Linked DNA regions of Homo sapiens: region 1 is linked to region 2. Evidence: fine-mapped expression QTL. A gene starts in region 2. The other region holds a variant in brackets. All regions are shown on one strand. Distances are from middle to middle.

Region 1 (2,906 bases), 22 kb after region 2:
GTTTCGCTCTTGTTACCCAGGCTGGAGTGCAATGGCACGATATTGGCTCACTGCAACCTCTGCCTTCCGGTTTCAAGCGATTCTCCTGCCTCAGCCTCCCGAGTAGTTGGGACTACAGGTGCCCGCCACCACGTCCGGCTAAATTTTGTAATTTTTTTTTTTTCTGAGATGGAGTCTCACTCCCTTGCCTAGGCTGGAGTACAGTGGTGCAATCTCAGCTCACTGCAAGCTCCACCTCCTGGGTTCAAGTAATTCTCCTGCCTCAGCCTCCTGAGAAGCTAGGATTACAGACGTGCACCACCACACTCAGCTAATTTTTTTGTATTTAGTAGAGACAGGGTTTCACCACATTGACCAGGCTGATCTTGAACTCCTGACCTCGTGATCTGCCCACCTCGGCCTCCCAAAGTGCTGAGTGAGCCACTGGGCGCTTCCAATTTTTGTTTTTTTAGTAGAGATGGGCTTTCACTATGTTGGCCAGGCTGGTCTCGAACTCCTGACCTCACCTCGTCCTCCCAAAATGCTGGGATTACAGGAATGAGCCACCACGCCCAGCGTGTGAGCCACCGCGCCCAGCAAAATTTTTTCATAGTTTCAGATTCCTTTCATCTTATTTTTAAATTTTTATTTATTTATTTATTTTTTGAGATGGAGTCTCATTCTGTTGCCCAGGCTGGAGTGCAGTGGCGCAATCTCAGCTCACTGCAACCTCTGTCTCCTGGGTTCAAGCAATTCTCTTGCCTCAGCCTCCCGAGCAGCTGGGACTATGCCATGTGCCACCATGCCTGGCAAATTTTTTTTTTTTTTTTTTTTTGGTAGAGACAAGGTCTCTTTATGTTGGCCAGGTTGGTCTTGAACTTCTGGGTTCAAGTGATCCTCCTGCCTCAGCCGCCTAAAGTGTTGTGATTAGAGACTTGAGCCACCACGTCCAGCTTCTGATTAATTTTAAAGTTAAAATTAAAATCCTTAACATGATCTACAGAGCCTTACGAAATTTGACCCTGTTATGGGCTAAATTGTATCCCGCACCCCTAAATTCATGTGGAGTCCTAACCCCCTTTACCTCAGAATGTAACTGTATTTGGAGACAGGGTCTTTAAAGAGGTAATTGAATTAAAATGAGCTCATTAAGATGGGCCATAATCCAACATGATTCCTTAGAAGAAGAAGAGATTAGGACATAGACACCCATAAAGACCCATAAAGGGATGGCCTTGTGAGGACACAGAAGACTCCTCTGCAAGCCAAGGAGAGAGATGTTAGGGGACACTTGCCCTGCCAATAAAACCACCTTTGCCAAAATTATAACTGACAGAATTATTACAGTGAAAGAGATCTGACTTAACTGACTCCATCCTGCTTCTTTTTTTTTTTTTTTTTTTTTTTTTAAGACCAAGTCTTGCTCTGTCACCCAGGCTGCAGTGCAGCTCAATCTCAGCTCATTGCAACCTCCGCCTCCCGGGTTCAAGAGATTCTCCTGCCTCAGCCTCCCGAGTAGCTGGGATTACAGGTGCCTACCACCACGCCTGGCTAATTTTTGTATTTTAGTAGAGATGGGGTTTCACCATGTTGGCCAGGTTGGTCTTGAACTCTTGACCTCAGGTGATCCGCCCACCTCAACTTCCCAAAGTGCTGAGATTACAGGCATGAGCCACCGCACCTGGCCCGACCTGTGCATTTATTGTTGGAGCATAAAGGCCTAGGCAGCCAGGGCAGCTTGCAGCCAGCTGGTGGCTGGACTTAGTCCTGCAGGCCATGGGGAGCCCCTGGGTGGTTTCAGGCAGAGG[A/G]CTGGCATGGTCAGATTACATTCTAGCTGTGGAAGAAAGGCAGCTCTGGGCCCTGCAGCTGCCGGTTTTGCTGGTGTTATCTACCCTTCTAACTGGGATGTTTCCAAGTTCTACTCAAGGTTTCTACACACAAGCTGTTCTGAAAAACAAATCAACCCTGTTAATTGAGTCAAGTAAACAAGTCCTGACCATTTATCGGAGACCTTAGCGCCTGCCTTGCAGTCTGTCTATGCCAAGCCATATCAAAATTCTGGACAGCTTTAAAATCCACATGTGGGCTGGGTGCGGTGGCTCATACCTGTAATTCCAACACTTTATGAGGCCGAGGTGGGAGAATCGTTTGAGCCCAGCAGTTCGAGACCAGCCAGGGCAACATAGTGAGACTTGGTCTCTACAAAAAACAAAAAATTAGGCCGGGCGGGGTGGCTCACGCCTGTAATCCAAGCACTTTGGGAGGCTGAGGTGGGTGGATCACCTGAGGTCAGGAGTTCTAGACCAGCCTGGCCAACATGGTAAAACCCCGTCTCTACTAAAAATGCAAAAATTAACCGGGCCTGGTGGCAAGCACCTGTAATCCCAGCTACTCGGGCAGGGGGGCCGAGGCAGGAGAATCGCTTGAACCCGGGAGGCGGAAATTGCAACGAGCCGAGATCACGCCATCGCACTCCAGCCTGGGGGACAAGAGTGAGACTTTGTCTCAAAAAAAAAAAAAAATTAGCCAGTCTGGTGGCGCACACTTGTAGTCCCAGCTACTTGGGAGGCTGAAATGGGAGGATCACCTGAGCCCAGGAGGTTGACACTGGAGGAAACTATGAGCTCACCAATACACTCCATGCGTGACAGTGAGACCCTGTCTCAAAATAAAATAAGAAAAATATGTCAAATTAATAGAGACAAAAAGTAGAATGGTGGTTGCCAGGAGTTGGAAAAAGGGGGAATGGGGGTTGTTTAATGGGTATAGAATTTTGGAAGATAAAAAAAATTCTGGAGATGGATGATGGTAATTGTTGTATTAGGTTGGCACAAAAGTAGTTGCGGTTTTTGCCATCACTTTCTTTTTTCTTTTTTTTTTTTTTTTTTGAGATGAGATGGAGTTTCGCTCTTGTTGCCCAAGCTGGA
Region 2 (2,906 bases):
CCATTATGTAAAATAATTAAGCTTATCCTTCACACCTTAAATGTATCATATCAAAGGCTGAGAGACCTTCGAAGGTCGCCAGGATAAATGTATCACATCAAAGACTGGGAAGGTTTCAAATTTCACCCTTAATACTACAAGTTCTAATTAGGAATCATTTTTACATACTTGCATATAAATTATACCACCCAGGTGAAAACCGGCATTTCAGTTGATTTATTCAACTGATAGAAAAAGAAAAGCTTACAGTCGCTACTGATCACTATTTAAAAACCGGAAAATAAAAAACGTACAATTAAATGCCCTCTTCTGCGTAGAGCTAGGTAGTTTTTTACAACCATACACATCCATACAACCGCCATCCCTTAATTTTTCTAATATTTTCGTCTCGCATATCAAACCAAAACCAAACCTCTCTCTCTTCCGGGAGCGAAGAGCCCTTTCACTCCCTTCGGAAGATGCGTAAATTTCAAAAGAGGAACATAGCGCTGGGGGAGGGTAATAATCTGCAGCTCAAAAAAACCGCGGGTGGAGAAGACGACCCCGGCCCCCGAACGCCTGCTTCTAAGACAAAGCTCAGCACCGCCAACCTCGACAAACATACAAAGAAGAAATACAAAAGCTTCTTCTCACAGTTGGGCGGAGGATGGGGGGCGGAGGGACGGAGGGACGTGAAAAGACGTTACAAACGGATGGCACGGAGAGAGGAGAGGGCCGGGAGCCAGGCAAGCTCGCTGGGGCCCTCGGCGGGGTGTCTAGGCCCGGAGAGGATCGCTGGGAGACCGGCCTCAAGTGACCACCTCCCGAGCCCCGGGAGCCGGAGGCAGCGGCGGGGGCATCCTTCCAGCGGCAGGGGAGGAGCCAGCCCACCTCTCCCCGATGCGCTCGCAGCCAGCTCAGGCAGCGCTCAGGGAAGTGTAAGCGGCGGTGCAGCCCCGCGGCTCCGCAGTAATCGCGCACCGCCAGGCCTCCGCGGACAGCGCTGAGGGCTCCGCGGCCCAGCGGGGGTTGACGCAGTGACTGGGGGAACGCGGCGGCAGCGGGGGCCGCGAGGGCTGCAGAGATCGAGACAACGCCGGTCCCCGCCCTCCCGCGCCTCTAGCCGCAGGCCGGCCGCCCTCCTCCCTCCCGCGCCGCAGGCTTGGCCCGCGGCCCCCTCCCCGCGCCCGGCGCTCCGCCGCGCAACGTCCTACCTGCAGGTGACCTGTTTAGTCCAGCCGCCGCCGCTGCCGTCGCTGCCGCCGCCCCCTCCGCCCGCCCCCAGGGACGGGGCGGTGACTGTGGGGATCGGGGTGGGGGAGGCTGCTGCCGCCGTCGCCGCTGCCGCTCCTGCTCCTGATGTTGTGGCTGTTGTTCCGGGAGTTGCAGCCTCCGCCATTACTGTTTATCCCACACAGCAAAGGCCCCGGAACTTCCGGGATCACATAGTTCCGGTCCGGCTGCGGGGAGAGGACGGCGAGGCCAGGCGAGGGGAGGGGAAGGACACTGAGGCACCCGTTCGGTCCCCGCCTGCTACGCGTCGCGTATCTGAGCGCTCTCGCCACTTCAACTGCGGGCCCAGAGCATGCGCGCCCGCGGCCCGCCCACGGCGCCGCTCATTGGTGGAGGGGACGTCTCCTCCGGAAAGGGGCGGGGCAAACGGGGGTCTGTACAGGTGTGTCCTAGGCTCGAAACCCCGGCGACGAAAGTCCATAGTTAGCGGCTTTCTTCCTAGCAGAGGCTGATATAGTGGAGCTGGGGCTGGGGACTAGGGACTTGCAGTCGGAAGACCTGGGTTTGAATCTGCACTTTCCCATTTCTCTAGTAATATTTGAGCTAGGTACTTGTTCTATCTGAGCCTCCGTTTCAGCCTCTCTCGAATAAGGATGACAGCAGACCCACATATGGTTGCTGTGAGGATTATATGATGTCCTTAGAAATCACTGAGCTTAGTGCCTGGTACATGGTAAACACTTAATAAAGGTTATCTCATTCCTGGTATCAGAGATGTGATCTTGGCCAAGTATTTTGGCTGAGCAATGCTCTAGAGGGCTGGTCCCCTTATCTCCAGGCTTCCCTTTCTAAGCCATGGGTCTTCTAGCAAATTATCCTACCTCTTGGTGCTCCTGCTTTCTCCTCTGTAAAAACGACAATAATAATAATAATAGGCCAGGCGCGGTGGCTCACGCCTGTAATCCCAGCACTTTGGGAGGCTGAGGTAGGCGAATCACCTGAGGTCATGAGTTCGAGATCAGCCTGGCCAACGTGGTGAAACCCCGTCTTTACTAAAAATACAAAAATTAGCCGGGTGTAGTGGCTAGTCCCAGTTACTCAGGAGGCTGAGGCAGGAGAATTCCTTGAACCCGGGAGGCGGAGGTTGCAGTGAGCCGAGATCGCGCCACTGCACTCCAGCTTGGGCGACAGAATGAAATTCCGTCTCAAAATAATAATAATAGTAATAGATAATAGTACCTACTTCAGAGATGGCTGTGAAAGTTAAATGAGAATCTGTTTAAAAACCTTTGTACTGGCCGGGCGCGGTGGCTCACGCCTGTAATCCCAGCACTTTGGGAGGCCGAGGGGGGCGGATCACCAGGTCAGGAGATTGAGACCATCCTGGCTAACACGGTGAAACCCCGTCTCTACTAAAAAATACAAAAAAATTAGCCGGTCATGATGGCGGGCGCCTGTAGTCCCAGCTACTCCGAGGCTGAGGCAGGAGAATGGAGTGAACCCGGGAGGCGAAGCTTGCAGTGAGCCGAGATCGCGCCACCGCACTCTAGCCACTGCACTGCAGCCTGGGCGACAAAGCTAGACTCCATCTCAAAAAAAAAAAACAAAAAGCAAAAAAAAAAAAAAAAAAACCCCTTTGCATTGTGCTTTTCACACTGCAGTGAATACATAATGAGTAACAAAATATGTCTGGA

What was found. PIP is the estimated chance that this variant, and not a neighbour inherited with it, causes the effect.
Region 1: its variant is fine-mapped to the expression of MKRN1 in whole blood (INTERVAL, PIP 0.94).

What each region holds. Positions count from the first base shown.
Region 1 is chr7:140,500,381-140,503,286 of GRCh38, forward strand. No RefSeq gene overlaps it. Among named protein-coding and RNA genes, the nearest start is that of MKRN1, 22 kb to the left of the region's middle. The variant A/G (reference allele first, on the strand shown) is at 1,788.
Region 2 is chr7:140,477,967-140,480,872 of GRCh38, forward strand. MKRN1 (makorin ring finger protein 1) reads right to left here and starts at 1,539. Exons shown (of 8, transcript NM_013446.4): 1 at 1,194-1,539. The coding sequence starts at 1,378. RefSeq lists silencers at 770-849, 1,130-1,269, 1,560-1,669 and enhancers at 805-1,645, 1,976-2,886.